Regions from separate parts of the Homo sapiens genome. Here region 1 is linked to region 2. Evidence: fine-mapped expression QTL. A gene starts in region 2. The other region holds a variant in brackets. All regions are shown on one strand. Distances are between the middles of the regions. Region 1 holds the start of ZNF691 (zinc finger protein 691). Region 2 holds the start of ERMAP (erythroblast membrane associated protein (Scianna blood group)).

The links. PIP is the estimated chance that this variant, and not a neighbour inherited with it, causes the effect.
Region 1: its variant is fine-mapped to the expression of ERMAP in pituitary (GTEx, PIP 0.95).

The regions. Positions count from the first base shown.
Region 1 is chr1:42,837,811-42,854,309 of GRCh38, forward strand. It overlaps ERMAP (erythroblast membrane associated protein (Scianna blood group)), which reads left to right. Exons shown (of 12, transcript NM_001017922.2): 8 at 1,091-1,111; 9 at 2,223-2,243; 10 at 2,342-2,368; 11 at 2,460-2,486; 12 at 4,707-7,181. The coding sequence ends at 5,422. It overlaps ZNF691 (zinc finger protein 691), which reads left to right and starts at 8,803. Exons shown (of 4, transcript NM_001242739.2): 1 at 8,803-8,847; 2 at 11,481-11,603; 3 at 11,755-11,932; 4 at 13,140-14,667. The coding sequence starts at 11,849. The coding sequence ends at 14,003. It overlaps ZNF691-DT (ZNF691 divergent transcript), which reads right to left and starts at 8,604. Exons shown (of 5, transcript NR_186083.1): 1 at 8,447-8,604; 2 at 6,701-6,874; 3 at 5,594-5,640; 4 at 4,965-5,106; 5 at 4,085-4,203. RefSeq lists enhancers at 8,340-8,609, 8,770-8,839. The variant A/G (reference allele first, on the strand shown) is at 8,082.
Region 2 is chr1:42,807,003-42,823,501 of GRCh38, forward strand. It overlaps ERMAP (erythroblast membrane associated protein (Scianna blood group)), which reads left to right and starts at 10,120. Exons shown (of 12, transcript NM_001017922.2): 1 at 10,120-10,251. SVBP (small vasohibin binding protein) reads right to left here and starts at 10,395. Exons shown (of 3, transcript NM_199342.4): 1 at 10,188-10,395; 2 at 9,429-9,578; 3 at 50-498. The coding sequence starts at 9,542. The coding sequence ends at 412. RefSeq lists silencers at 9,269-9,338, 9,899-10,098, 10,249-10,538.

The sequences.
Region 1 (16,499 bases), 31 kb after region 2:
TATCTGGGAAGACAAGTCACTGGCTCAGATGACTCCAGATTCAATGATGTCAGCGTCTCCTCTCTTCCCTCCTTACATTTCCTCCAAGCTGGTGCAAGCGTGGCGTGTATCTGGCAGACACTGGCTGTTCTGCTCAAGTGAAGAGGGAACAGTGTGGGGTAAGGGAGAGGGCCTCTAACTCAGGAGTCAGACAGACTTAGATTGAATCCTGCCTCCTTGGTCACTTACTAGCTGGAAGACCTTGGGCAAATTTTGTGTCCCTTTGAGCCTCAGACCACCCCCCTATAAAATGGCAATAATAATTCTAGGCATCTCACATTATTGAGAGGATTCAGTGCCTACTTCAGTATAAGCACAGCAGACAGTAAATGGAAGCTGTTAGTAGTGGAGATGGTAACAATAAACCATAAGCTCCTTAGGAGCCGTGTCGTATTCGGCTGCATTGCTCCAATGCCTAATGCCTAACACATGCCCGGCCCTTAGCACAGGGACTGGTGGTGGACTCAGGATGTGTAACTTCAATTGTCTAGCAGGGCCAATGCTGGGTAGGGGGAAATGTGGGCCACATGGCCCTCCAGAGAAGCTGCAAGTACTCCCCAGAAACACATGTCTCATACACATGTCCCCAAATCTTCTGGGACCTCCAATTTGTGAAATTTATAACCTCAGGGGAGTTACTGTAGAGAATAATACAGCCATATTAACAAGTTCATGCTAGGCCTTTAGCTAGTTTTACACCTTAGATACCATAAACGGTGGGCTATAAAAGGACAGCAGTGCATACACTCATGTACCGCAGTTACAAACATATAGAAACACTCATGCCGACAGCAGAAATGAAACCAGACAGATGAAAAGGAGGGGAAGGGGAAGGAGGAACCAAAGTCCCGGGCAGGCTGGGTCACTGGGACAGTGTCACCAGCACCATCAGATTTCTGGGTCTGAACTCTGGGACACGGAGCTGGACTAGGGACATAGAAGCGTCACCATCATTTTAATCTTGTGGGTTGGAGTGATGAGGCTGCCACAGCTCTGAGGAAAAAGAGGCAGGATCTGATCACTCACTCTTCTCTCTCTTTCTGGTTTTTAGGAAAACTCCATAAAGCTGTCAGTAAGTTTTGCTCCTCATCCATGGCACAAGCTCCTTCTGCTGACACTTTTGCTTTGGGATGAGCATCTCAGTTTCACTTCCTGGGGCAGAAGGGAGGGGGTACTGGTAATTCAAGCCATGGGGACTGGGGCTTTCTTGGCTCTCAAAGGCCTCTTTTCTCAAGTATTCTCTGCTCCTCTTTCCTGCACAACTATTATTTAGTCTTTAAATGAAAAACGTTTCACCAGGAAGAGATAGATGCATCTCCCATAGGTGAAGCCATCTGGAAGTCCCTTTTATCACCCAGGCATGACATTTCCTTAGATGGGGTCCAGGAGGACAGGATCCTTATTAAACTGAATATGCTGGAGCAGTACTTCTCCATCATTTCATGTGTGAGGACCTCTTTTTAACATTAAAAAAAAATCTGGCCAGGTGCAGTGGCTCATGCCTATAATCCCAGCACTTTGGGAGGCCAAGGCAGGTGGATCACTTGAGGACAGGAGTTTGTGACCAGCCTGACAACATGGTGAAACCCCGTCTCTATTAAAAATACAAAATTAGCTGGGTGTGGTGGTGCACGCCTGTAATCCCAGTTACTTGGGAGGCTGGGGCAGGAGAATCGCTTGAACCTGGGAGGCGGAGGTTGCAGTGAGCCGAGATTGCACTATTGTACTCCAGCCTGGGCAAAAAGAGCGAAACTCCATCTCAAAATAAAAATAAAAATAAATCTGTAGACATGTGACATATCTATGCATTAATTATTACATTGAGAAAATATACATGATCACAAAGTCCAATACTCAGTGATAGTTTTAAATGAAGTAATATTTCCTACAACATCTACATAATTTATGTTGTCATTACCTGTAGGTGTGAGATGTGTTATTTATTTAGCCTGCAGATAAGGTTTGGCTCACATAGGAATTTGCTGATCCTCTGCAGTATCTCTGGGGATACTCCCATGGTCCACAGCTGGGATCTACTGCTCTTGCAAACTCTTCTGGGGAAGTTCCAGGGTATAGCTATTGAGTATCTGTCTGCTCATGGTTGGGATGGGACTGTAGCATTATGGGAGGGCCTCTACATAGAGGCCCTCCTTCTGATTTGCCAAATTGTTTTCATTCTTTAGAGAAACTCCGGAGTGAACTGAGTAAGTTTCCCATGTTCTTGTAACTTCCGTACCAACTTATCTCCTGTTGCCCTAATATTTGCAGTGATAGCTCATTCCCCTTGTTTCTTCTTTCATAGAGTTGAAAAGAGCTGCAGCAAACTCAGGTGAGATGCACTTTCTCCACATTTGACCACCACCCTACAGGAGTTCTTGATGTCTCTGGTACTTTAATGATCCCCTTTTCTCATTTTTCAGGCTGGAGAAGAGCCCGGTTGCATTTTGGTAAGTTATACCAATCAAATAGGTCCATATCTCAGAGCACTTCCTCCTTATGGCTTTGTAACCTTAGATTTTGTTCCATTCCTCTGGAATGCAGGTAATTTAAAAATTTTTAAATCAAATCTGTATATCTGACTATCAAATTAAAAAAATCTTTGTGATCGATCTTGAGGTCATATTTAGATTTAGAAAGTATCCCCTCTTTTAGAGCACTGATAATATTAGGTTTGGTCTTCTTAAGGGTTTTCTGTGGTTTTTGAGATTTTTCCTATGTTTATCAGTTATTTGTATTTCTTCTTTGTGTGACTTGTCTGTTCCTGTTCTATTTGGGCTTTTTTTTGATTTGTGAAGACTCTTTCTAGATAAAGTATATTAGCTCTTTGTCATATTTGTCACCATTACTTTTCATTTGTACTTCCTTATAGTATTTTTCTGATGCATAAGTGTTTTATTTTTACGTAGTCAAATTCATTCATCTTTTTCTGTGTAGTCTCTTCCATGCTTTCAGGTTTGGGAAGTCCTTCCTATCCCACAACCAGATAAATAGCCACTGCTTCCGCCTCTTTCTACACATTTGCTTTTTCTTCTTTCTCTGCAGACCAATTTGCTTAGGGGTGGTGATTGAGATTCTCAGAGAAGAAGGGAATGGGTTGAGCAGATGCCCCAACAATATACATTATGAAAAGATTTGCACCTCTCTTTCAATGTATTCCTAAATAGTTTGCATTTTTTGCTGCTGTTCAAATGGGACCTGTTTTTTTCACTGCTTTGGGATCCTTATCAATTTTCTAGGCTTTTATCCTCCTCCTGTTCACACCATCTTCCTTCAGGCAGAGTACAACAAATTATGAGTTGGCCACTCGAGAGAACTCCAGGTCACCTTGGCTGGCATTCTGGGAACTTACAAACCCTTCTGTCTCACATTTACAGTCTGGCTTATTGCCACCATCTCAACTGTGTATGGTTTATAGACTTAACTCTCTAAGAAGAAGCTGTTTCCTGTATTTGGGGAAGGAAGGAGACTCACTGTGACACTCATAATCCACAATTTTAGGGAAGAATCCTTCTCTCTATATTAACATTTAAAAATAATAATTTCGTCCTACGTACTTGGGAGGCTGCAGTGGGAGGTTCACCTGAGGCCAGGAATTCAAGGCTGTAGTGTGTTATGACTGCATGCCCATGAATACCTACTGCATTCCATCCTGGGAAACATAGTGAGACCCTTCCTCAAATAAAATAAAATAAAGCAGATAATTATAAGTAATAATTTTAGGTGACAGAATGAATATCATGCACTCACTGTAGGAATGAGGCACTATATCATTAGTTCATCAAGTCTGCACAATAGCTCTACAACACAGGTTCTGTTACTATTTCCATTTTACAGATGAGGAAACTAAGGTTCAGAGATGAGTAACAAGCCCAAGGTCACATAACTAGCATGTGGCAGAGCTGGGATTCAAACATGCTATGTGGCTACAGGATCTAACAACAAACCCTGTATTTATCATCACACATTTGATTATTTTGGAACATCAAAGACAAATGTGGTGTCTTACTCTGTTTTCTGTTGCTATAACAGAATACCCGAGACTGGGTAATTTATCAAGGAAAAAGGTTTATTTAGCTCATGGTTCTTGGGGCTGGATGGTCCAAGATTGGGCGACTGTATCTGGTGAAGGGCTTGTGCTACTTCATAGTATGGTGATAGTTGCTTCTGGAAGAACAGAAGGGCAAGTGAGTGCCTCCAAAAGCAGAGAGGAGACAAAGTGCCCTGACCTGCTTTATCATAACCTGCTCTCCAGAGAAATAAACCCAGTGTTGTGAAAACTGCATTCATCTCTTTGTGAAGGACCCAAACACTTCCCACTAAGCCCTACCTCTGAACACTGCAGCAATGAGGGATTAAGGTTCCAACACGTGAACTTTTGAGGGACACACTTAAATCATAACAGGTAGTTATTTCCTGAGGATTAAAGCAGTTTCACAGACAGATGAAGAAGAACTTTTTCTTCTATTACTTAGTAATCGACCAGGAGACCTATTCTTTGAAAGAGAATATTCTTTGGTTCCAGTACACATGGTGGGGGCGGGAATCCATGAACTAAAATGGGCTAATGACAGTGATGGCAGACCTAAGATTCTTTTTCCCTCCAAAGCCATCCCCAAATCCCTTAAGACCTATACTTCCAAGCCTCACCTGTCTGTGTCTCTTTGCAGTGGCAGTGACCCTGGACCCAGACACAGCACATCCCAAACTCATCCTTTCTGAGGACCAAAGATGTGTAAGGCTTGGAGACAGACGGCAGCCTGTACCTGACAACCCCCAGAGATTTGATTTCGTTGTCAGCATCCTAGGCTCTGAGTACTTCACGACTGGCTGCCACTACTGGGAGGTGTATGTGGGAGACAAGACCAAATGGATTCTTGGAGTATGTAGTGAGTCAGTGAGCAGGAAGGGGAAGGTTACTGCCTCACCTGCCAATGGACACTGGCTTCTGCGACAGAGTCGTGGGAATGAGTATGAAGCTCTCACATCCCCGCAGACCTCCTTCCGCCTTAAAGAGCCTCCACGGTGTGTGGGGATTTTCCTGGACTATGAAGCAGGAGTCATCTCTTTCTACAATGTGACCAACAAGTCCCACATCTTTACTTTCACCCACAATTTCTCTGGCCCCCTTCGCCCTTTCTTTGAACCTTGCCTTCATGATGGAGGAAAAAACACAGCACCTCTAGTCATTTGTTCAGAACTACACAAATCAGAGGAATCAATTGTCCCCAGGCCAGAAGGGAAAGGCCATGCTAATGGAGATGTGTCCCTCAAGGTGAACTCTTCTTTACTACCCCCGAAGGCCCCAGAGCTGAAGGATATAATCCTGTCCTTGCCCCCTGACCTTGGCCCAGCCCTTCAGGAGCTCAAGGCTCCTTCTTTTTAGGGATATGCCACATTACCTGCTCCCATCACCATCCAGCCCAGCACCCTGGACTTCAGTCGCCTGGCCCAACCCCATGATTATGGAACGTCTCTTCACCTTAACCCAAATCCAGACCCTTTTGTGGTTTCTATTTGTACCACTTTTCTCCCAGGCCTCAGTTCTGAAGCTTACCTTTCTTCTAAGGAATTGAAGCTCCCAGTGACCTGGAGGGAGGATTCCTGGAAACCAAACAATCAGTTTAGGTGCAGGTGGAGATGTTGAATATGTGTTACCAAGATACAGCACAGGTTCAGGGAAAAGAGTTCGCTACTCCAGGGGTTATTTAGAAGACACTTTCTCTGCCTCATCCTGCCCTCAAGCTTTAGTCAAGAAGTTATGGCCCCCAGTCCCTGACTTCTTACTTATCCCATTGAGGACTGCCTTTCTCTCTCTCAGTTCTGGCCTCTGCCCCCCAAAGTCAGCTCTCTAAAAGCAAGCATGTTTTAGACCACTCACTCTTTCCCTCTTTCTTCAGGAATGAATTGGGAAAGGCTGATGAGTAAAACATACCATCCTTTTCTATTTTCTTGATGCTGTTTACAACATAGTTTGGTGATATCCAGAGCTAATGTACATGCTTTCAAAAGCTAATCTGCCTGTTGATGGTAACTAGGTACAGCGACTTTAAATACAGTTGCTATAATCCTGAAAAGCCCCAGGAGCACATCAGGGAGCTGGGAAACACAGTTGCAGAGAACTCAGCTGTATGTTGCCCTCTGACCTTGGCCCAGACCTTCAGAGGCTCAGTCTGTTGAGTCTGTTGTGACTGTCTTATGAATCAATCTGTTGTGCCAACCCTTTCTGAGATTCAGAGAGGTCCAGCTAGAAAAAGTGGCAGTTTTAACCACCAACGTAGAAGCTTTTTTTTCCCCACAAGACCATTGTACTGCAATACTTGAGTATTTGTGTAGCAAACAGCCTCTTAGGTTGGAGAGTATTGATTTCAAATAGGAAGTTGGTAGACTAGGTGTGAGGATGAAATAATGACCTTGATTTTTGGGTGTGTATTGCAGAAGCCTCGTCGCTTTCAAGTCACATCATATATGCGATCTGGCCTAACCATGGAGATATTGGTTATCAGTTTGCAGATGAATACACAGTTCTATCCAACAGAAACTGTATCTTTCTGTTTGTCAGAAGTTCTCCGTTAGTTCCTGTATTAGTCAAGGTTTTCCAGAGAAACAGAATCAATATATATTGGGGCAGGGGGGCGGTGGTTATTATAAGGAATTGGCTCACGTGATTATGGAGGCGGTTAAATCCCAAGATCTGCAGGATAAGTCAGCAAGATGGAGTCCCATGAGAGCTGATGGTTTAGTTCCAGTCTGATGGCAGCAGGCTTGACGCCAAGGAAGAGATGATGTTTAATTCAAGTCCGAAGGCAAGGAAAAAGCTGATGGTCCTGTCCAAAGGCTATTAGGCAGGAAGAATTCTCTTAGGGCAGAGTTAGCTCTTTTGTTCTATTCAGGCCTTCAACTGATTCAGCAAGGCCCGCCCACATTTGGGAGGACAGTCTGCATTACTCAGTCTACTGATTTGAATGTTAATGTCATTGAGAAACACCCTCACAGGAACACTCAGAATAATGTTTGACCAAATAGCTGGGCATCTTGTGACCCAGTTAAGTGGATACATAAGATTAACTATCACAGTGACTCAGTGGAATTTTTTGTTTGCTTTTGTACAGTTTTAAAATAAAAGTTTGGTATTTGTGTTTTGGTATGCTGTTATTTTCATTGTGAATGAGGAGTTGTGGGGAAGGTAAGAGATTGGTTTCCAAAGAGCTTTGAGTCCCCCAAGGCAAGGTTTAGCCACCGTTCATACTAAAGCCATAGTTTTATTCCTGAGTCTGCTCTCTAGTATTTTATTTTATCAATTTATAAACAAATAGTGTTCATAAGGCACACATATTTCACTCAACCATATTCAGTTCCAAACATGCATTCCTGAATATCCCAATCTTAAAACTAACTCACATTGTCAGCTTGTGGAGGCAGAATACATGCATACATATACACATACATACATGAATATACATATAATATACACACACATATGCATACATACACATATACACATGTATACATGTATGTGTATATACATATCTGTACTACATAGGTGTATATATATGTATATGTATTTAGCATGTATGCACGTGTATATGTATACACATATATACATATGTATGTATAATACATATTCACACATGTATGCATGTATATACACATGTATACATTAGTATATGTATATACACATGTATGTGTATTATACATGTATATATGTACATACATATCAGTCTACTGATTTGAATATTAATGTCATCAAGAAATAACCTCAATATATGTATGTATTATAACCTTACAACTATATAAAACATACATACATATATATGTATATATGTATACACATACACATGCATGAGAATATATGTATGTATATATAATATCCTCACAGTAATTCTGCCAGGGATTTTATGGGGGAGGGAGTTGGTACTCCAAATGGCTAGGTGGTAGAGCCAGAGTTTTATACTTGGTTTATCTAGCTCTGAAGGCAATGCTCCTTGTTCTTTGCACTGAAACATTGTGCAGATACGAGAAGCCTGTAGTTTACGTATTTCATT[A/G]GCCTTTTATTATTTTAAAAAATAAAACCTGAAAAAAAAGACCTAGTCCTGGATACTTTGGTGATCTTGTTGTGTCTGGATTGACGAACACGTGTCAGGCTTAATTAGGGATGCACGCGGAACCCGGGAAAATCCCTGCTCAGGGGGGCTGGAAGACCTGGAGGTTGATCCTTGAACAGGGTACTTTTAGCTTCTCCGATAAGGAGATTGGGTTATTTTATCTTTAAACTCCCTTCCAGCTCTACCCTCCTTTGATTTTAAGTTATAAACCTTGAGTGAGGTGCCAGACTCTAGGCTTCGTTGGACGTCTACAGGACGGTCAAGGATTACCAACTCAAAGTAAAGAAGGAAATTTGAGTACTTGCCCCCTTGGAGGTTGTGTAGGTTGGCTATACAGATTCTACAACTTCCCAGACGAGTGGCCCTGAGACTTGGGGCTGAACGCGCGAGCACGGAAAGAAATCCCACCGTAGGACGGAACCCAGTCTCTTCAGCTCCATCCTAAACTTCGCAAGTTTTCTCTGAGTCTACGCGCTTCCTTAGGACTACAACTCCCAGCATGCCACGCCAGCGGTCAAAGCTTATTGGTGGTCCTGCCAGGTCGCTTGCGTTGTGGCAGTCATGGTAGCCAATGGAAATAAAGAATTATCCCAAGAAACCAATCCTGGAGTAGTAGGGCGGATCCTTCCTGGGTTCCGGCTCCGGCTCCAGCTCCTTCCCTCGCCTACAGAGGCGGCGCTGTCCCTGATCGAGCGGCGGGAGCGAGGTGGGTCCGGGTTGGGCCCGAGGTCGCGGGGGGAGGCGGACACGACTTCGCGGGAAACTCTGTACACGGCCACTTCCCTCTCACCGAGGATCTGGATGCTGCTGCTTTGCTCCCTGGACCGAGTGGGAAGCCAAGGGGCCTTGTGGTCCCTCCGCCGCGACCCTCGCCCTGGCCCCCGGCCCACGCAGCCAGGTGGCTGTCCCCAACCCATTCCCCGGCCCTTCTGTTGGGTTTGAGTATACAGCCTTCCTGCCGCTGACCATACGTTTAGGATCAGCCCCTCCTCCTCTCCCACCTCTCTGGCCCCAAGCCCGCCGGCAATCTCTGAAACCAGCTCTTGTACCCTTGGACCTCCGCCATTGGCTTCTCCCCGCCCCGCAACACACAACTCAGCTCTTGGGCCCTGGCCTGTGACACTTCTGGCAGCCTTTGCTTCCTCTTCCCTGACCGTCTCCTGCGACCCTCTGACTTCCTTGGTCCTCCTGTATCTCTGACCCGTTATCTAGCTTCCCTGTACAATTACCCTGTTAGCACCTTGCTCTTGGTCTTTCATAGCTCCTCTCTCCTCTTCCTCCCTGCAGCCCTTGACTTGGCCCCAAAGACCTGTAACTTCGGACCTCCATACCGCACTATGGCTTGGCCCCTTGCCTTTAACCTAGGCGCTTCACCTTCATCATCTGTGATCACTAGCCCCATCTTCTTGGCTCTTAACTTCTTAGACCTGGCCCCTCCTCCACTTCTCAGCCCCTTCCACCGTTGCTTCTCTCTGTGCAGCTGAGCCACCAGGAAGACAAAGCCCAATAGACCCCTTTTCCCCCCAGATCTCTGCAGTGTGATATGAAAGTGCCTCTGTACTTCAGCTGCACTGTCTTCTCAGTAGGTAGTTGCCTCTTTATCTCTGCAAGTCCCAGTCTTACCCATCCTGCAAACCTTAGGTCAAATACCTACTCCTCCTTGAAACTTCTCAGCCCTGATTTCATCAGGGAGATACATCTGTATCATGTGAACTTCAGTGGTACTGTTTTTATTTCCTTCCTTCCCGTCTTCTCTCCTTTTTTCCTTCAGTAATAGTATAATGGTTAAAAGCACTGACTTTGAAGTGATGGGCATAGGCCCCAGTTCTGCCACTTACTTGCTGTGTGCCCTTGGGCAAGATACTTAATTTCTCTGAGCCTCAGCTTTCTCATCTCTAAAATAAGGATGATGTGAAGTGAAATTAGATGATTCATATATGGTCCTTAGTCCACAGCTTAGCACTTGATTCGAGCTTTAAAAAAATGTTAATAATGTGCCAGGTGCTGTGTTAGACACTGAGGAGTGGGTACAAAGGTGACTAAGGCACAGTTCCTGCCCCTGTCCCCTGAACTTAACCTTCTGCATTGTATGACAATTTCTGGAGTTCACGGTCTGTTTCAGTACACTGTATCACAAACTGAGTGGTAATCATAATCCTAAATCCTTTTGCTCTTACATTGACCTAGCATCCAGCCCCGGGTAGAGCTGGAACTTGGTAAATTATAGGTTCTCAGAATAGCAGTTTCGGAAGTGAGTGGAGGCTGAATAGCTCATTGCGTAGAGATACTGTAGCTGTAGGTCAGATGGGAGCAGGGCAGGGGGTGGGGGATGGGATGGTGGCGTGAATTAAGATCACATCCTGTCACTTATACATTCAAAAGACATTTGAGCACCCAGCTTTATGCTGCAGAAGGAGATTACTAATATGACCCAGTCCCTTTCCTCAAGTTGCTTATAAACTACTAATAGAAACAGACATGTTCTACTAGTAGTTGCAAACCACTATAAGCCAAGCACAAGATTCTGTGACTGCATAAAGGAGAAAGTAGGCAGGAATCAGGAGATTGCTGAGGAAAAGTGGGTGAGACAGTTCATGGTTACTTGTGTCCCATGAAGACAGAGCTGGTGTTTTATTCAACTCATTCAACAAATACTTATGAAGGATCTACTGTATATGGCTGCCACTACTCTAGGAGTTTTGGTTACATTGGTAAATTAAAAAAAAAACAAAAAAACAACAAAGACACCAGCTCTCATGGAACTTATGTTTTAGGGAAGCAGACAATAAATAATAGACATAAAGAGAATGTCAGAAGGTAAGATGTGCTATGGGGCAGGAGGACTGGGAGTGTGGGAGTGATTTTAATTTTTTAAAGGATGGTCAGGAAACAGTGTCTAAGTATCAAGGAATAGTTTCTCATGTTTACTTGCATTTTTGGAAGTAAAGCAAACCAATTATTTTTCATATTCTTATCTAAATTCTTCAAGGAACACTAACAGGGATTGGCAAACCACAGCTCACCTCCTGTTGCTTTAAATAAAGTTTTATTAGAGCACAGCCACACATTCCTTTATGTCTTGTCTATGGCTGCTTTCATGATTCATGATACAGTGGCAGAATTGAATAGTTACAGCAGATATCCCATGGCCATAAATATTTACTAAATATTATCTGGCCCTTTACAGAAAAAGCTTGTCAACCTCTGGTTCTTAAAGAGTTGAGGTTCTGTCTGTATTTCACATTTTAGAAGGTTATATACAGTTTTATGCTATTTTTAAGTTAAAAGTTTTTTCTTAATGAGATCATTTAAAAGATCTTTTTCTTGTATTCTTCACAGGGCCTGGACGTAGTGTCTTCAACAGTTGTAACAGCAGCTGCCATTTGCTGAATGACAGCATGTGTCACACACTCTGCTGAGTATTACAGGCATTTTTTTCTAATACAAAGTCTTGTAGTGTGGGTAGGTATCACAATTTTAGTGAAGAGGGAGTTTAGGCTCAGAGTGGTTGAATAATTTGCAGAGAGCGATAAAGATAGTATGTGTCACAGTTGTAATCCAACCCTAAATGTAGTCAGTACCCCTTTCTTTATTCTGTGTTTCTTTTTTCCAGAAATACTTGCAGACTTGAAGGAATTATCAGTCTTTCATTTTCTATCATCAGTGTCCTATGATAGTTTGTGCTTCCCTCCCTCATCCCTTTGTTCATGTCACTCTGTTCACCAACCCACTCTGCTGAAATGTCGTTATTTCTTCAAGGCCCGGAGGAAATGCTACCACTCTCATCAGAGGTACTTTTCCCCCCAACTCTTTCCCTGTCCTTGGCTGTAGGAACCCAAAGGAGTCTGTGCAGCTTAGCACACATTAGTGATGTTTGCACAAATCAGGACCTGTACTGGGCACTCTTATGTGTTTAGTTTTGGGGTGGGGTGTGGGGAGTGTGGTTTGTGTGTCTGTGTCTGTGTTTATCTTTGTGTGTACTTGGTATGTGAGTGTGTGTCTGTGTGTGGTGTATGGGTATATGTGTATAGACATGTATGTAGCTATATATGTGTGTGGCTGTGGTATGTGGCTATATGTGGTATGAGTGTGTATGTAGTATGTATGTGTGTGGTGTGATAATGTATGGCTGTGTGTGGTGTGTAGGTGTATAGCTGTTGTGTGTGGTATGAGAATGTGACCGAGTATGTCAGGTATGTGAGTATGACCGTGTTACGTGAGAATATGGCTTTGTGTATGGTGTGACTGTGTCTGTGTGATTCTGCTTGCTTGTGTGCATGCATGCGTGTGTGGGCGGGGGGTGTGGGTGGGGCTTTGTATGGTGTTTGAGAATGTAGTGGAGGGCACTGACTGATCAGAAGAAACACAGCCCAGGCCCCACAGTAGGTCCTGGAGGTCCCAGGTATTAACCCAGATGTTTACTTGCTAGATTCTGGTGTGGGCTGGAGAGGGGTAGAGTGGCAGAAATCTCAAGAAAAGCCAAAGCTGGGCCTTGTCACCTAGGAAAGCCTCAAGATTTAGAGGTTTTGTTTTGTTCATTTTGAAAGCAGGCATATAGGTAGATACTTGTAAGGAAGGTTTTTCAAAAAGGATTAAACATAAAAAGAGTTACAGTTAACTTACAGTTAGGCAGAAAAATTGAACTTATCCCAAAATGAAAGCTCTTTTACTTGCCCATGAATTATAGTCTGGATTGTCATTGCTTAGTGGTTTCAAGAAGAGTGACATTATTCAAATGGCACAAATATCATCTGGTGGTGGTGGACAAAGCCGGTGCCTTCTTTTTGCTCTGGTGGGTAGCTTTAAATATCTCTGAAAGTTTGTCACTTAAAAGGTAGCAAGTAAAGGTATTCTATCCAAGTATTCCAGTTGATTGAGGTTATTTCTAATGGATGGTCCCATGGGGAAGGTGTATACCCTTCAAACTGAACAAAAGATTCCCTGTGATCTGGCCCAACCCAAAGAATAAAGGTGTTGGCCATTTGTGTTCATTCTCAGGGTTCAGAGATGGGCAGTGAGAAGGAGCAGAGTCCAGAACCACACCTGCCTGAGGAAGGGGAAGGGGGTAAGCCTTGGAGAGTGGATGACTCAGAGGGTTCTTGGATCCCACCTGGGGAGAAGGAGCATGGGCAAGAGAGCCTGTCGGATGAACTGCAAGAAACTCATCCAAAAAAGCCATGGCAGAAAGTCACTGTCCGGGCTCGAGAGCTAGGGGACCCCATTGCTCATCCAAGGCATGAGGCAGATGAGAAGCCCTTTATATGTGCCCAGTGTGGCAAAACCTTCAATAATACCTCCAACCTGAGAACACACCAGCGGATCCACACTGGTGAGAAGCCTTACAAGTGTTCTGAATGTGGCAAGAGCTTCTCGAGAAGCTCCAACCGCATCCGGCACGAGCGGATCCACCTGGAAGAGAAACACTACAAATGCCCCAAGTGCCAGGAGAGCTTTCGGCGGCGCTCAGACCTCACCACGCACCAGCAAGATCACCTAGGCAAGCGGCCATACCGCTGTGACATCTGTGGCAAGAGCTTCAGCCAGAGTGCCACGCTAGCTGTGCATCACCGGACCCACCTGGAGCCAGCACCCTACATCTGCTGTGAGTGTGGGAAGAGCTTCAGCAACAGCTCCAGCTTTGGCGTGCATCACCGCACCCACACAGGTGAGAGACCTTATGAGTGCACTGAGTGTGGGCGGACCTTCAGCGATATCTCCAACTTTGGAGCACACCAGCGGACCCACAGAGGGGAGAAGCCCTACCGGTGCACTGTGTGTGGGAAACACTTCTCCCGGAGCTCGAATCTCATCCGCCACCAGAAAACTCACTTGGGCGAACAGGCTGGGAAAGATTCCAGCTGAAGGAGAGCCCCATTTAGAGTGAGGGAGAGAGAGTGAGAGACCCTAACCTATTGGAGGAAGATCTTCAGCATCTTTTGCTGCTACCTTGACCTCAAGCCCTTCATCCCACTTTGGAGAATGGTTTTGTATAGCCTCTGAAGTCAGGATCTCAGGAAGTCCTGAGGAGGGACTCTGGAATAAAAACCCTTGCCTCTTTCCAGGCCAATTTCTCGTGTTGGAAAGTCAGAAGACCCAGTCTTGGCTTTACTTTCTTGGGGTGAAAGAGAAATAGGGTAGGCTCAGAACATGCTCATGTTATTAAGGCAGCAGTCCCCCTGGCCTTTGAGGAAGTACTTATGAGATGGGTGTCACTGTCTGAAGGTTCTCCAAATTGTCTGTGAACTGCTTAGGTAGGAGTGCACTGCAGTTTCCTGCTAGTTCCCACCTGTTGTGCCCCAACTTTGCTTCTAGATCTCTGGGGTGGGAGGAGTGACCTTCTCAATGGAAGGGGCCTCCTTGGTCTGGAGAAGAGATCTGAGGTCCCACCTTAGAAATGAAAGGGAAACCCTCAGGGAGCCATGACCCAGGGACCTTCACACTCCCCCATGTTTGTTACTTGTTATCCCTCCCCCAACCTGCCTCTGTTTTCCCCAGAGTGATTAGCAGTAAAACCCTTCAATGAAAAGGACCCGTGTACTTATTTGGGGAAGTGGGGAGCTGGGGAGATTGTCCCACTGAACCCACTCTGGAAGGGATTTGAATTCTAAGAAAGACAGATGGGTAGATGCTCTGAAAAGCAAAGGAAAGCAGACTGAGTTTCTGGGGCCTTTGAGGAGAAGGGGGAAAGGAAAGGAACTAACATTAATTGAGCATCCACTACATGCGATTAATTCTGTCAGTCACATTTACATTCATTATCTCATGTAGTTCTCACAGCAACTCTCAAAGGAATAAGAAGAGGACATGAAAGTGAGGGAAGATAAAGTCACTTGCTGTGAAGTCATACAGCAAGTACGTTGTGGAGCAGAGTTCAAACTTGGGCCTCCCTGACTGCCAGCTGTTGCTCTTTTCACTACATTTACCTTTTGGCTTCTGAAGGAGGAGCCACTTAGGAGACTTGCCTGGAGTTAGGAGCCAGTGTGGCCTCTTCATATGGCCTTGGGCCATTTGCTCTATGGCAAGTCAGTGCCAAGCATGAGAACGTTTTCAACTTTATTTTATTTTGAGGTCAACTTTATTTTATTTTGAGACAGGATCTTGCTCTGTCGCCCAGGCTGGAGTGCAGTGGTGTGATCACAGCTCACTGCAGCCTTGATCTCCTGGGCTCAAGTAATCCTCCCACCTCAGTGTATGGAGTAGCTGGGACTGCAGGTGCACACCACCACACCTGGCCTCAATGTTATTGATTGAGCACTTACTCTGTGCCAAGGAAAAACGGCAGTGACGGGGAGTACAGGGTGAAGGGTGGGATAAGGTGAGAGAAATCTTAAAACCCATAATGAGAGTCTTTGCTTTTAGTAGCAATAGTTTAGTCCTCAAGGCTGGAACAGCTTAGCAGGGATTATGTCTGGTTTCCTGTCCTCCTGGTTTAGGCCTGGCTCCACATGGCAGATTTCAGTGTTTTCTACATGGAAGTTTAGTGTTCACCCAGTTTTCCTCTAACAAATACAAAAGAACCCTTCCTCTAACAAATACAAAAGACCCCTATCTACCTCTCTTGTGAATCTGGGGCCCTACTCTTCCAGAGTGAGGGGCCCTCTTCATTTGTAGCCAGTTGGCAGAGTGTGATTCTGGCACCGGGCTTGGAACTGACATCACCCATAACCTTACCTAACATGGGGACCCTGCCGTTCACCAGTAAGAGATGTGCCAGGAACTTTACACTCATTATTGAATTCTCACAGCAACTAAGAGTGACTTGCATTTGCCGTATGTAGAAATAGGCTGATAAAGAAAGGGACTTGCCCAAGGTTACAGAGCAAGTAAATGCGGGGTGTAGGACCTGAACTACTGCCCAAATTCAAGTCCTGTATTTTATCCAACTATAAAAGACTTCCCAAATGATTCATTTATATTTATAGGGTACTTTACTGTTTACCAAGCACTTTTATTTCATACACATTTTCTGATTCCTTGAAAATCTCCACACAATATATTTTAAACATAGTCACCCAAACTTGTGTGTGTGAGTTGGCACACACCCTAATAATAAAAATCACCATCTTTTAAATACCTACTAAGTGCCAATTATTGTACAACTCTTATCTCTAGTCTTCATACTATCCTGTAAGGTAGTAATGTCCCCATGTTCAAGGCAAGAAAATTCTGTGAGATTAAATAACCAGACCTATTGGCAGAGTGGAGACTTAATTCAGGTATGTCTGATCCCAAGGTCAAGCTCTTCATTATACCCACTATCAAGCTAGGTCTACAGATCCCCTCTCAGTCTGGGAAGCTTAGTCTGACTCCTTCCTGACTTGGAGACTTTGTGACAACCACTGTGATTTTTTTTTTTTT
Region 2 (16,499 bases):
TTGTGCTCCATTTTCTACGGCTAGGCATTTGCTAAAGTATGAGCAAATGAACATTTTATTAGTATTTTATTTGTATTTTTGGAGAAGATATAGAGTTTCATGAGAAACACTGATTTTTCTCAAACAATAGAAAAAGTGTTTTTTGTGTGTGTTTTTTTTTTTTTTTTAAAAAAACCCAAAAAACAAAACCACTGTCTTAGAAGAAGAAAACAAGTCTCTTCAGCAAGCATGTGGCCAATTCAGATGGGAGGAACCAGTGAAGTTAGAAGTTACACACAGGAAGTGAGTTCAGATTTATCCACAAATGTCTTCTGGTCTAGTTCTGTAAGGCTCCAAATGGGCCATCTCAGCTTAAAACTGGCAACACCCTCTCAAAGCTCTCAGGATCCCATCTGGTTTGAACCTGGGGCCTCATTCTCCAGGAGGCTGCATCTGTTTACAGAACTCATCAAACTGCTGCTGCTCCAGTTCTGTCATGACTCTGTTGAGGGCATAGATCTGAATGAGAGAAAGAGATACATCTGTTAGCAATGGAAGCAGCTGCACAAAGCATCTTCTGACATAACAGGTGGTGCCTTCTGAAAATACCAGAATTTCACCAGTAGTGGTAATGCAGGGACAGTGCTCTGGGAATAGGAAAGTTAGATATTAGTTCCATCTGGAGAATCAAGACAGCAGCAGTGATGCAGGTGGCTTGATTTGGTCTTTAAGGGATTAGTAGGATCCCTTAAGAAGAAAACAAGTCTCTTCAGCAAGCATGTGGCCAATTGAGATTGAGGAACCAGTGAAGTAGAAGTTACATACAGGAAGATCAGATTTATCCACAAATAATCTTCTGGTCTAGTTCTGTAAGGCTGCAAATTGGCCATCTCAGCTTAAAATCTATCATGGGACATGACAGGTGGTGGGGGAGGCTTTATGTGTAAATAAATGTAATGGAAAAGTATAGAGTCTGTTCTGGAAACTTCAAGCATGCCAATATAAAGGATATTATAGAGTAGGGGTTGGGGAGCTGGAGAAAGCAAGAAAATTATGTTGGGGTCTTAAATGTCATGCCAAGGAATCTGGATTTTATCTGGCAGATTCTGGAGAGCCAGCAAAGATAAGTGTGCAGGGGAGCAATGTGAATATAGTGTGTGTGTGTGTGTATATATATATATATATATATATATATATACATACTATGTATAGTATATATAGCTTATATAAGTTATAAGTAGAGTGCATATATGTTATAATATATAAGCTATATATACTATAGCTTATATATACTAATATATATACACTATACTTGCAAACCTCTGACATGACAGATCCTCCGCCTCAGCCTCCCAAAGTGTATACATATATATAATAATGGTATATATACTATATAGTATATATAGGCTATATATAGTATATAAGCTATATATACTGTATACAGTATATATATAAGCTATATACACTATATAGCTTATATATACTAATAGTGTATATATACTATATATAGTATATGGTATACTTGCAACCTCTGACATGACAGATCTTCCCACCTTGGCCTCCCAAAGTATATACTATTAATAGTATATATACTATATAGTATATATGTAGTATATATAGCCTATATATATAACCTATAATATAAGCCTATATATGTATGTATATATAGCTCATATATATAAGCTATATATGTATGTATATATCGCATATATATATGAGCTATATATATATTTCAGACAGAGTCTTGCTGTGTTGTCCAGGCTGGATTGCAGTGGCATGATCTCAGCTCACTGCAACCTCTGCCTCCCAAGTTCAAGCATTTCTCCTGCATCAGCCTCCCAAGTAGCTGAGATTACAGGTGCCCGCCACCAAACCCGGCTAAGTTTTGTATTTTTAGTAGAGACAAGGTTTCACCATGTTGGCCAGACTGGTCTCCAACTCCTGGCCTCATGTGATCCTCCCGCCTCGGCCTCCCAAAGTGCTGGGATTACAGGCGTGAGCCACTGTGCCCAGCCATAAGCAACGTTGATTCTTTCTGTGCTTTAGGAGGCATCTGTTACAACAGTCCAGACAGGAGGTCGTGGGAATATCGTCTACAGCAGGCAGTGGTGATGGAAAGAAGATGGCAAGAGACATCCTCAGGTGAAAGGCAGGGTAACTACACCTTATTCCTCATCATCTTTCTTTATTCTTAATTAATCCACCCACTAAGAACAGAAACAGATCACAAAACTTCCTAATTTGTAGAAGAAAAAAATGAAAGACAGAGTGTGTGTGTGTGTAGAGGAGCTATAACTTGATTAATTGAAAAGACAAGGAAGGGGGAAAAAATGAAACTTAGAAGTGGGACAAATAGAAAATACAAAATAAAGAGCAGAAACGAATGAAAAAGCAACCAAACCTACAATAGAGAGGATCACCAAGACTGCCAGATGGTTCCTTGAAAATACTAAAAAAAACCTTGCAAACCTCTGACATGACAGATCAACATAAAAGGGAGTGGGCACAAATAAACATTATTAGGAACTAGAAAGAAGACTTAACTACTGACATAACAGAAATGAAAATGAAACATTATGAACTCCGTGCCAACACATTTGACAACCTAAATGAAACAAGTTCCTAGGAAAAGTAAAATGATCCAAACTGACTAGAAAGCTTGAATATTCCTGTCATCTTTAAGAAAAATGGAATTCTACACAGTGATGAAAATAGTTACTAACACTACCGCAAATGATTCTTGAAACACAGAATGCGGCTGATGAAACTAGTAAATTTTATGTATATTTTACCATAATAAAAATAAATAAACTTGAATGGTTAAAAAAAGGCTGAGTGAAGACAGCCAGTCACGGTAACATATATAAAAGGTCAGAAACATTCAAAACAATATATTGTTACACAACAAAATATTTAGAGGTACACAGACAGTAAATTAACGTAGAACAGCAAGAATGATTAGCATAAAATACAGCAAAGAGGGTACTGCTGGTGGGAAGGGTGAGGTACATGACCAGGAAAGGAGTACACAAAGCTTCCCAGTTACTGGTCACGTTCTATAGTTGGGTGTTTTATTCTTAAGCCACATACACACATTATATAAATATACTTTTAACACACACACACACACACACATACATACATACACACACACACACACACACACACACACATATATTTTTTTTGTGAGCAGAGTCTTGCTCTGTCACCAGGCTGGAGTGCAGTGACCCGATCTCAGCTCACTGCAACCTCCGCCTCCTGGTTCAAGCAATTCCCTTGCCTCAGCCTCCTGAGTAGCTGGGACTACAGGCGTGCACCACCGTGCCTGGCTAATTTTTTGTATTTTAGTAGAGACGGGATTTCACCATGTTGGCCAGGATGGTCTTGATCTCCTGACCTCGTGATCTGCCCACCTTGGCCTCCCAAAGTGCTGGGATTACAGGTGTGAGCCACTGTGCCCGGGCCCACATATATACATATATATTTGAAAACCTCTGCTTGCTTCATTCACTAAGTATTTACTGAGCATTTTTAATCTGCACATTACTGTACTAGGGACTGAGATGCAAATTAAATAGCTTCTCAGAGACCTCCAGATCAAGGAGGCAAGATGGTAGGAGAAAGAGGAGACTCACAATGGGTCAGGGTGTCCAGGCCAAAGAATGACTCTCAGTCAAGAAGGAAACGGACCCTAGCAGTGTCAAACGGTGCTTCCACTGCCAATGTGCCTTCCGTTCCCATTCACCTCCCACATCTCTCCTTCACATCTAACTTTCTGGAATCTGGCGTCTGCAGAATTGAATAGAAACTGTCTCTTCCTCCCCACAAAGGGTCTTGTTGCATTACATTCCAGGCAATAAAGATTAAAAACAAACAGGATAGGCGCGGCGGCTCACATATGTAATCCCAGCACTTTGGGAGGCCGAGGTGTGCGGATCACTTGAGGTCAGGAGTTCGAGACCAGCCTGACCAACATGGTGAAAGTCCATCTCTACTAAAAATACAAAATTAGCCAGGCATGGTGGCGGGTGCCTGTAATCCCAGCTACTCAGGAGGCTGATACAGGAGAATTGCTTGAACCTGGGAGGTGGAGGTTGCACTGAGTCGAGATCGTGCCACTGCACTCCAGCCTGGGTGACAGAGCGAGACTCCGTCTCAAAACAAAACAAAAACACCAACCAACCAAACAGAAAAAAAAACAGCAAGGCAGCTGTAGGGGGCAAGGCAAAAAACAACAGACAAAAGTCAGAAGATGTTTAGACCACAGGCCTGCCCCTCTTTAACTACAGGACTCTACTCACATCCCTTTGAAGTGAGGATAATACTGCCTACCTCACAAGGCCATATATTTTACATATCGGATTAACCAAGGTTAAATGGGAGTCACAATAACTCCTGCTTTGGAGCCCTGGTGTGAGGACTACATGTGGCTATGCATGTGTAGGCTTGGCTCGGTCCTGGCACATCTCAAGAGCTGCACGGGGCCAGCTGCTGCTTGAGTGCAGCAACGTTGCATTTCAGCAGGTCAACAGGAACTCAGCAGTTGTTCAATTTAGGGTCCACACAATAAGAGCAGGCTGCCTGCTTGGAAACACAAGATTATTCCTGATCATAATCACTGCTAGTTATCAAATGCTTCCTCTGCCAAGTACTGCGCTATGGGCTTTACACGTGGTATTTCTATTCCTTTTAATGGTCTTCTGAGGTAGATGTTATCCTCATTTTACCAAGGAGGAACTGATGAACTGGGGGTTCAGAGAGGTTAAGTATCTTGTCCAACGTCACATGGAAGAACTGGGATTTATGGAGGAGCTGAGATTTGAAGTCAGACAAATAAATTTAACCTATAGAACTTTACAGAAGGGTGTCAATAAGGGCATGAACAATGTCCTCAACATCTATCCTTACAATATGCACAGAGGACAGTTTCATAGGGCTGTTTTTTTTAAAAACGGATTTTAACATAATTACTATGTGTACATAGACAATTAAGAATAGGGAAAAACCCCAAATTAATGTTTTAACAAGTTACAAGCTGTTACTAAAGACAATATCCTTGGATTTAAAAAAAAAAAAAAGAGTACAATAGAGGAAGTCTCTCATTCAACCGAGCAGTTTAACCAATCTCTTTTAATAAATCCAGCACATTACAGTGGTATAAATTTATCTTTTTTAACACTCCACATAAAAACATGTGTCCTCTCTTACATTTAATCATTAGTAGTCTCTAAAATGGTAAAATAAATTGAATTTACATTAGCAAATGAAAGTGCAAATTTGTACAGCTAGGCTCAGCAGCAAAAGTGAAGAATAAGAATGAAAGGTGAAAAGCTGGTGGATGCCATGCAGAGCGAGGACTTCCATAAAGGTCTGTGCCCTGCGGCCAAACACAGTCAACACACCACCATTTTCTTGTTGCTCTTAAATGAGCAAAACCAAATTTCTTTTTTATTTAATGAAATATTAAATCTTTATTTCCCCCTAACATAATTTGTGATCAAGTAGGACAGAGGTAAGTCCCACCATCACTGGGGACAGTAGCAACACACAGACTTCAGAAACAGCCTTGAATCATCAGTAACATCCTCCCCTGGTAACGTTAGAAGGAATGCATCTAATGACAAATTTGCAATGTTGTCACATTGTTCTAATTTATTTGATTAGTTTATCTGGAAAAACTTTACACATTATTGAAGACAACAGTAAATTATTTTCTTGCTCTGAAAAAATAATGTTTTTTCACATTTTAAAACCTTTTAGTATGCTTTTGCAAAAGTAGTTGCAAGAATATGACAGCTGGGTTTGCAGAATGTCCATGTACAAGTTTGTATTTATAAGAAACTGGTAATCTGCCTATAATTTGCCTCTACAAATAGAGCTCTTTAAAATAATATTTTTAAAAAAACAGGCTTAAACTTTTCCCTATTCATTCTACTTGTAGCAAAGAGGTACTTACTTTTCAAGTATTACATGGTAAAAGGCACAAGTTTTTTTTGCCAATTTTAAGCTGTTAAGCTTTAAGACCAAACTATGTGAAAAAAAATCATGCCTAGTCAATCCTAGTCAATCATTTTATAGCCAAATCCTCTTGTCTTTTAAATAACGCAGAAAAATACTAATTTGCTAAGAAGGAGCACACTGGAAAAAGCCATTTGAAAGTACTGAAGAATGAGGAGTATTTTTTTTCTACTGATGAAAATTATTAGGAAAGCTATCCTGTCTGTTGTCTTTAGCTAGTTTAAATAAATCTTTTCAAAATGATGGTCAAGAAATCTTTAGAAAACTGGAAGAGGGGATGCTCTTTTATAGCATGAAAGGAATTCCATTAATTATAGAAATTCTCGTTAAATTTTGACGTTGGTTCTTCAGAAAAAATACGCATTTAACTTCTGCAGTCTGTTGTGTTTGAACACCATCTACCTGAGCCAGGGGCCCAAGCGTTCCTTCATCATCAAAGGCCAAAACTGGATTCAAAGGAACTTCTGGGCTCTTACTGTTAGTGACATCTAATCTGGATGGTTTCGATCCAATGGGTAAATTTATAATTTCTTCAAAATTTTCATTCTGAACAGAGATACTCCATTTTCATTTGGTTTTCCAAATTGGGGGTGCTCTCCACAGTCACTTTTGATTGGTGTGAGGTAACCACATATGGGCTGGCAACTGGTTCTCCATTTCCCAGAGCATTTGTTGTACACGGAAGTATAGATAGCTCTGTTCCTCCAGTGAGAGCTCCCTTGGCTATATCACCATTTCTCTGATCAATGGTTTTCTTATCTGTAGCTTCTGTTCTCCTGCTTCAGGGCTGTTTCTTATAGCAACCCTCATATTGTTCACCAAAGCACAATGCAGTCATATCATCTGAGGACCCGGATCCAGGTGGGAATGGGAAGGTAAAGGACCACAGCTCTCAGGGGGTCTGCCTTAACCCAAAGGTAGATTTCAGTTTACAGATTAACTTCAAATGCACTAGTAAGTTTACTTATTATGTTTACTGCCTCCCCTTGCTGGAATGCAAGATCCATGAAGGCAGGGATTCTTTTCTGCTTTGTCATCATGTGACTCAAATTCCTCGAACAGTGCCTGGCACATACTAGCAGTTCTTTTTCTTTTTTTTTTGTTTTTGAGACAGAGTCTAGCTCTGTCGCCCAGGCTAGAGTGCAGTGGCACAATCTCGGCAACCTCCGTCTCCTGGGTTCAAGCAATTCTCCTGCCTCAGCCTCCCGAGTAGCTGGGACTACAGGGAGCACCACCACGCCCAGCTAATTTTTTTTTTAGTAGAGACAGGGTTTCACCATGTTGGCCAGGATGGTCTCAATCTCTTGATCTCATGATCCGCCTGCCTCGGACTCCCAAAGTGCTGGGATTACAGGTGTGAGCCACTGTGCCTGGCCAATATTTAATGAATGAATCAGGTTAACAAAAATTAAAAGTTGACAATATCGGCCGGGTGCAGTGGCTCACACCTATAATCCCAGCACTTTGGGAGGCCAAGGCAGTGGTGCACGCCTGTAATCCCAGCTACTCTGGAGGCCGAGGCAGGAGAATTGCTTGCACCCGGGAGGCAGAGGTTGCAGTGAGCAGAGATCACGCCACTGCACTCCAGCCTGGGTGACAGAGCAAGACTCCGTCTCAAAAAAAAAAGAGACTCACCATCAGAGAAATGCAAATCAAAACCACAATGAGATACCATCTCACACCAGTTAGAATGGCGATCATTAAAAAGTCAGGAAACAACAGGTGCTGGAGAGGATGTGGAGAAATAGGAACACTTTTACACTGTTGGTGGGACTGTAAACTAGTTCAACCATTATGGAAGACAATGTGGTGATTCCTCAAGGATCTAGAACTAGAAATACCATTTGACCCAGCCATCCCATTACTGGGTATATACCCAAAGGATTATAAACCATGCTGCTATAAAGACACATGCACACGTATGTTTATTATGGCACTATTCACAATAGCAAAGACTTGGAACCAACCCAAGTGTCCATCAATGATAGACTGGATTAAGAAAATGTGGCACATATACACCATGGAATACTATGCAGCCATAAAAAGGGATGAGTTCATGTCCTTTGTAGGGACATGGATGAAGCTGGAAACCATCATTCTCAGCAAACTATCGTAAGAACAAAAAACCAAACACCGCATGTTCTCACTCATAGGTGGGAACTGAACAATGAGAACACTTGGACACAGGAAGGGGAACATCACACACCAGGGCCTGTTGTGGGGTGGGGGGAGGGGGGAGGGAAAGCATTAGGAGATATACCTAATGTAAATGACGAGTTAATGGGTGCAGCACACCAACATGGCACATGTATACATATGTAACAAACCTGCATGTTGTGCACAGGTACCCTAGAACTTAAAGTATAATAATAAAAAATAAAAAATAAAAAGAGACTCCATCTCAAAAAAAAAAAGCAATGTGGCAATGTCTAGTAAAATTGAGAATGTACCCAGTAATTTTTCTAGTTAAATAACCTACAGAAATTCTAAGGCAGGTGCCAAAGGAGACACCTAAAAGCTTTTCACTACAGCAATGTTTGTAATAGCAAAAAATACTATAAATAATTTAAATGTGCATCTCTGTAAGAATGAATAAATATACTAAGTAAAATGGATGCATAAAATAGACTATTATAAAAATTAATGAGAATAAACTAAATTCTTATATTGGCATGAATAGTTCTAAAAAACAATGTAAGCAAAATGCAAAATAAAATGCAGGAATTTTATTAATGTAAAAATTTAAAATACTACTGTATATTGTTCAAGGATATCTATTAATATATTTGAATGTAAAAGTATAAAAAAAAGTAGTTGTCCATGGAGAAGTAAAAGGATGTAAGACAGGAAATGAACAAAGCAGACAGATAAACAAAACAAAGAGGGAAAAAGAGACCAGCAAGATTTTCCCTGACATTAAATACTAAAATAAAATACTTATGTCTGTATGTGGCTCAATATTGGCAGGGTAAAGTTTAAAGCTTTTTATTCTCAAGTTGATTGTAATCGTTGAGAGAACAAAGGAACACACTGGTGAGTTTAAAGCTTGGGCCTCTACCTGGCATGAGTAGCTGCTTTCCGCACCAAATCCAGAACATCTGTACTGGGGGTGTCTGACACTTGCGTGCTCTCTCTCATTCTGACCCCTTCTTTCCCCTTACATATCATTTTTTTTCCTTTCTTCCTTCCCTTGGGTCTCTTACCACAAAAGCTCCGCACCAGACTGGGGTTCTGACACTAACTTGGCATGTGATTCTGGGCTGCCACCTCACCATTCTGAACCTCAGTGTTGTCCCCTCTAAACCTGGGAGAACACCCATCCTGCCTGGAGGCAAGTATGGCTCGCTGTCAGTTCTCCTTTCTGCTGTTTCTCTATTCCAGCATCATCTCCAGCAGACTACAGGCATACAGAGCCTCCGCCTTAATCTCACCTCTGCTCTTTGTCTCTGCTTCAGCTCCTGCTGGGCTGATTTCTGTTTGGCCTTCTCAACTCTGCTGACAGATTCTTTAACTTTGGTTTTTTCTTTACGTGCAGGTGGATCCATGGCTTGACTTCTGGATATTTCTTAGGAGGCTCTGATCTGGGTGGTACAGAAAGAGGCAGATCTTCAAAACAAAACAAAACAAAAAATACCCTGCCAGTTACTCCTCTAATCCTTTAGCTCCGCCCCATCCTTTGCCAGGTGAGGCAGAGTGGTCTGGTGGCAAGGGCGCTGGATGTGGGGGAGTAGGAACCGAGTCCCAAGGCCACAACCTCGCTGGGTGTCCCTGGGCAAGTCTCCTCCCCACTTTGAGCCTTAGTTTTCTGTCTGCAAAATGGGTTAAGTGTTTTCCTGGCCTCCCTCCAGGAGCTGCTGTGTGCGGGTGAAATGCAAAGACCCCTGTGAAAGCGTTGCCCACTGTGCGGCGTGCGGCACCCAGCGCGGAACCGTCCTAATGGGACGCTGAGACCCAGAGGGCGCCCAGGGTTTTCCCACTGCGGCCGGCCTAACTCCGCCGCAGCAGCCGCTCCTGGGGCCAGGGGGCCGGGCCCCATAGCCAGCCGGGCCCGCCCCCCACCGCCCGGCCCCCCGACCCCGCCCCGGCCCGCCCGGCCCCAGGGGACGGCCCCCGCCTCCTGCCCTCTTCCCTCTCCTGGAGGAAAATGGCGGTCGCTGGAGCCGCCGACCAAGAGGCTTGGGAGTCTGTACCTTTCCCGACCGGGCCACTGGAAGTTGGAGCCTCCGCCGAGTCGCAGACAACGCCTCCGGGAGGGTAATCCTCGCCTTCCCCCGACCACTGGACCCAGCGCTGCCTGCCCACCGCCCCTCGTCCTGGGCGGGGCCGCGCGCCGGGGGGAGGGGCGCAGGGCCGAGCGCCAGGAGGCTTCCGCCCGCAGGAGCGGCCGCGCGTGCGCAGAGAGGATGGCTGGAAACCCGCGTAGAGGGCGGGGCGGGGCAAGCCGGTGCCGGGGCGGGGCAGGGGCGGAGCCACACCGGGGTGGGTGGTGGTTACGGCTAACCAAAGCTTTTTCCCGTTATATTTTCTGCAACAGCTACTAGGTTTTAGAGGGTGAGATCCGAATCCTGGAATTGGAATTGCTCAGAATTCGAATTCCGAGGCTCAATTTCTTAATTCGAAAAGTGGGGATTGATGATTGCCACCTTCTTCATTCATGAGTTTATTGGGAGGATCAAGTGAGATCCCGTTTGCCACAGTGCTTTGAAAAAGGAAATCTTGACAGAAGTACCAATAGCCAGTATAAATACAGAGAACATTCACGTTCAACTGATTACCGAGGAGATGTAAATTAAAATAGCTGGCTGTAATTTTCCAGGTATTACATTAGCAAGGATTGACAAAAATGATAATAGCTACCTTACATTTGGGCTTACTATATTCCAGGCACTGTTCTTACAGCTTCACATTTATTAACTAATTCCTCATAATAAGTGTGTATAATGTATACGTGTATATTATTATCCCCATTTACACATAAGGGAACAGAAGCATTGAAAAGTTAAGTGAGTTGTCCCGGGTCACACAGCTTCTAAGTGCTGGAGCAAATATTTCAGCCAGGATTCATAGGACAATGGCCTTATCCAAAGTAAAACCCTGTTTGGGTCCACTATTTGTTCCTCTATCAAACTGGCAAGAATTGAAACAACTGATAGATGCTAAGCAAGCAATGAACTCAGCCCAGATGGACACACGCTTCCAGTCAAACTGTAAATCGTTAACAGCCTTTCTGGAGGTCAGTTTAGTACTAGGTATCAAAAGCCTTAAAAGTGAGCACAATGCCCCAAAAAGACAAATACTGCATGTTTCCATTCATATGAAGTATCTAAAGCAATCAAAGTCTAAGAAACAGAAAGTAGAATGGTGACTGCCAGTGGCTAGGAGAGAGGGAAAAGAGGAATTGTTTAAAGGGTATAGAATTTTAGGTTTGTAAGGTGAAAAAGTTCTAGAGATCTACTGCACAATGTTTATTTTTTATTTATTTAATTTTTAAAAAATAGATGGGGTCTTGCTCTGTCACCCAGGCTGGAGTGCAGTGGTGTGATCATAACTCACTGTAACCTGGGCTCAAGCAATCCTCCCACCTCAGCCTCCAAAGTATCTGGGACTACAGGCACACACCATCATGCCTGGCTAATTTTTTAAAATTTTTTTGTAGAGATGGAGTCTCACTGTGTTTCCCAGGGTGATCTGGAAATCCTGGGCTCAAGTGATCCTCCTGCCTCAGTCTCCCAGAGTGCTGGGATTACAGATGTGAGCAATTGCGCCCAGCTTTTCCAAAATTTCTACAGTAAACGTTTATACTTTAGCAATCAGAGGAAAGTACATTAAATGTCTTTTTAAAAACCCTATACAAATGCTGATTCGATTATTATTAATAAAAGTAACCAAGTCAGAGTCTATTTCAGAAATCTTGATGTAGTACTGGTATTTTACATTTGTGTCACATGGTATGGTTTATAACGTTCATATAAGCTATGAACTAGATTACAGCTGAAGACACGGCAGGACCTTTAGAAGCCAGCTAAAAACAAACCAGCTATAGGGAATGGAGGAGTGGAAAAGCCACATGGAAGACTGGAAAAGTAGTGGTGCCACTGAGCCACTGTTGAAAGTGGAGAAGGTGTGATGAGTTGGTTTGGGAAACGGTGAGGAAGAGGATAAGTTAGGAGCGTGTGTGTGTGTGTGTGTGTGTGTGTGTGTGTGTGTGCGCGCGCGCAAGAGAGGGACCGAGAGAGAGAAAGAGCTAGATTACGCTTCAAGTGGCAATAGGCAAGAAGAATTGTCCAGTGAGCAATTAGAAGATTTCAGAAAAGAACGGAACTGGAGATACCAGTTTGGGATTCTACATTCTTTATTGGGAAGGTGAAGGTTGGAGCCAGGAGGGAGTGAATGTTGAGGCTGAACACTGTCAAAGTCCCCTCTCTATTCTTTCCATGAGTTTATGCTTTGTCTGTCTCTTTTGTGTCTACCAGTGGACTCTTGGCCAGGCTGCAGAATTTCCTGGTTTGTTGAATGACTAGCAAGAGTTTATAGTAATATAACTAGAATATTTTTACAGTTGAGGTATATACTACACTAAGATTATATTCACTTTATTGAATAATATTTTTTCTAGAGTCAAAAAATTATCTATTTTTATTTGCTTAATGATCTATGCATCCCTTGTTTATTTTTTATTTTCAGAGGTGGGCTCAAGTGATCCTCCCGCTTCAGCCCCTCAGTGGCTGGTACTACAGATGTGAACCAGGTCATTTACCAGTGTCTTTTTTTTTTTTCTTGGCAGCATCCCTCCTTAGACTCATCCTCTCTTTGCTCCAAACTCCTCTGCTTAGCCTTGCTTCACAGCTCTTGTCCTAGGATTAGGGACCTAACCACATTCTGGGGATTCTCTTCTTGTTTCTCCTGTGCCAAATCCCCTGCTCTCTGGATCTTATGTTTTTCCATTCTTGGTTTATTCTCTCATTTTGGAGGAGTATGTTCTCCACTAACTCCCCAGAAGGGGTTCATGGAAGCTAAATTTTTGAGTCCTTGCTTGTCTAAAAATGGCTTTATTTTCTTTCATCCTTGAGTGACAGATTTCCACATTGGAAATTATTTTCCCTCAGAAGTTTAACGGCATTGATTCATTGTCATCTAGCTTCTCATGTGGCTACTCTTGAGGAGACTGATTTATTCTGACTTGTGTTACTTCCCATATATTTTGTTTGTTAATTTGTTAATTTGTTTAGGATATTTTTCTCCTTTATCCTTGATGTTCTGAACGTTCATAACAAACTGTCCTTTAAGTATTTTTCATTCATTATGCTAAGCACTCGGTGGCCCCTTTCAATTGGGAAACAAAGTCTTCAATTCTGGGAAACGTTCTCTGTGATCAGTTTCTCTTTTTTTTTTTTTTTTTTTAACAAATAGAGACAGGGTCTCCCTATGTTGGCCAGGCTAGTCTTGAACTCCTGGCTTCAAGTGATCCTCCTGCCTCAGCCTCCCAAAGTACTCAGATTACAGGCATGAGCTGCTGCACCCAGCCAGTTTCCCTGTTTTTAAATTTTTCTTCATGTTCCATTTCCTGGTTTTGTTTATTCTAATTTACAAGAGATTTTCCTGAGCTGTATCCCCTGGTTCTTCTATTGAATTTTTTCATTTCTGCTACAAAAATGTTAATTTCCAAGAGTTTTTGTTTGATCCCCGACTTTCCTTTTTGGTAGCCTCTTGCTCTTATGTTGTGGATTCAGGATCTTCTCTTATTTCATATTTCTGAGGATTCCAGTTGTAATTTTCTGCTGTTTTCTTCTGCTTCCTAGATTGTCTCTGTTGTTTATTTTGGTCTCTGGCTTTCAAGTTGGAGCTTATCCTCAGACAATAACAGCTACCATTGAGTATCAGCCCCTATTTTAAGTATTTTGCATGTTTTAGCTAATTTAATCCTTACAACAACCCCGGGAGGTAGAGCCAGGCCCTGGTCCCTCCCATCCCAAGCCTGGAAGGTTCTCAGTTGAGAATCAGCTTTCTTCTTGCTGATGTCAAGGGTTGATGTCAGGAACCCTTTATCTGATGTTTCCCCCAATCCTGCCTCCCTCTGCAGGCACCTGGGTTAGAGTTCAGTTTTTCCTAGCTCTATTACTAGTGAGCCCTCTGCTTTCCTTCATTAAAGAAATGTATTGACATCTCTATTGCACAGTTACTTACTGTCCTGTTCTCTTTGTCCTTATAGGCTTTTCCTTTTGCACTCCAAGATTGTCATTTTAGATCATTTTGGGAGGTAACAGAGATAAGCATTTGTGTTCAATGAGACATGTTTATTTAACTGGAAATCTAGAGCTCCCTCTTTTTAAGTCAGGAAGCATATAGACCAAAAAAATTACAGTGATTATTACTGGATTCTGAGATTACGATTATGAGTGATATCTTTATCTATGTCTGTATCTGTTTTTCTCACTCATAGAGTTAGAAGTCTAAAAAGAACATTTCAGATAAGAAACTCATTTTATGATGTGATTTAGACTATCTGATAAAATGCTTCTGGAGAAAGCAGTAAAAATATTAATTATGACAAGTTATAAATTGGTACAATTACTTTGGAAAACAATTTAGTATCATCTATAACCTGGCAATACTACTTCTAGGTATATATTCTGAGAAACGCTTTACATTTAAAAATTATTGAGGACCTCAGGGAGCTTCAGTTTATATGAGTTATATTTTTTGAAATTTTCCATATTAAAAATTAAAACTGACTGGGTGTGGTGGTTCATGCCTGTAATCCAGCATTTTGGGAGGCCAAGGTGCGAGGATCACTTTAGGCCAGGAGTTTGAGACCAGCCTGGGCAACGTAGTAAGACCCCATCTCTACAAAAAAATTTTTAAAAATAGCTGGGCTTGGTGGCATGCACCTGTAGTCCTAGCTACTAGGGAGACTGAGGCAAGAGGATCACTTGAGCCTAGGAGTTCAAGGCTGCAGTGAGCTATGATTGTGCCTTTGCACTCCAGCCTGGGCAACAGAGCTAGACCCTAGCTCTAAAAAAAAAAAAAAAGAAAACTAAGAAAAATTAAATATAATTACTACTTTTAAAAATAAAAATAATAAATTATATAACAACAAAACATATATTTATGAAAAGCAACTTTTTTGAAACAAAAATATTACTGAGTAGCACTGCTTTATATTTATATAAATCCTTTTTAAAAAATTAATTTTTTTTTTTTTAAGATGGAGTCTCACTCTCTCGCCCAGGCTGGAGTGTGGTGGTGTGATCTCAGCTCACTGCAACCTCCACCTCCCAGCTTCAAGCAATTCTTGTGCCTCAGCCTCCTGAGTAGCTGGGATTATAAGCGTGTGCCACCACGCCTGGGTAATTTTTGTATTTTTAGTAGAGACAGGATTTCGCAATGTTGGCCAGGATGGTCTTGAACTCCTGAACTCAGGTGACCCGCCTGGCTCAGCCTCCCAAAGTGCTGGGATTACAGGCGTGAGCCACTGCACCCAGCCCTAATTAATTTTTAATTGACACATATGGTACATATTTATGGGGTACAGAGTAATATTTTGATACATACAATGTGTAGTGATCAGATCAGGGTAATTGGCATATTCATCTCAAACATTTATCATTTCTGTGTTTTGGGGACATTCAGTATCCTTTCTTCTTTATTTGAAACTACATAATATATTATTGTTAACTATGGTCATCCTACAGTGCTATAAAACAGTAGAAGTTGTTCCTCCTACCTAGCTGTAATTTTGTGTTATTGAACAAATCTCTCCCTATCCTCCCCTTCCCTCTCCAGCCTCTAGTAACCTCTGTTCTGCTTTTCACTTCTATGAGATTAACTTTTTCTTTTTTTTTAACATCTAACTATGAGTGAGAACATGTGGTGTTTAACTTTCTGTGCCTGACTTATTTCATATAACGTAATGTTTTCTAGTTCCATCCATGTCACTTTGAATGATGGGATTTTATTCTTTTTAATGGCTATAAATATTTTAGATGTCTGGCTTAATAGAAGACAGCTGTATTCTCAAGCCAGCTATATCTTTCAATCTGCTGCAGTATGTTTTGTGGTTGAAGTGTATGCAATTGGAAAAGGAGCATTTCAGTAGCTTTTTCAGATAATCGTGGATATTCTTTGATAAGACACCAAAACTCAGCAAGTGGTAGTTTTTTAAAGCTTAGTTGTGACATGAAATCTGAAACCATAGCAATGACCTTTTTATACTCTATTACAGCAACACTCACAGTTTTTTCTTGCATTTTAAATGAATGTTTTACCCATGCAGGGTTTTGTCAACACACCCATTGGTCATTTGGAAATTGCTGAGTCACTGAGTTTTACAGATCTTCTAAATGTTGACACATTTCATTATACAACATCAAAAAATCACATTTATTAATATCAATGCCAATCTCATCAGAAAAGTCTTTTGCTATTGTGAGGGTATCAAGCAGCAGATAAAAATTTTCCAAAATTCTAATTTTTGCTCAAAAGATTGAATGTTCTCATTGACA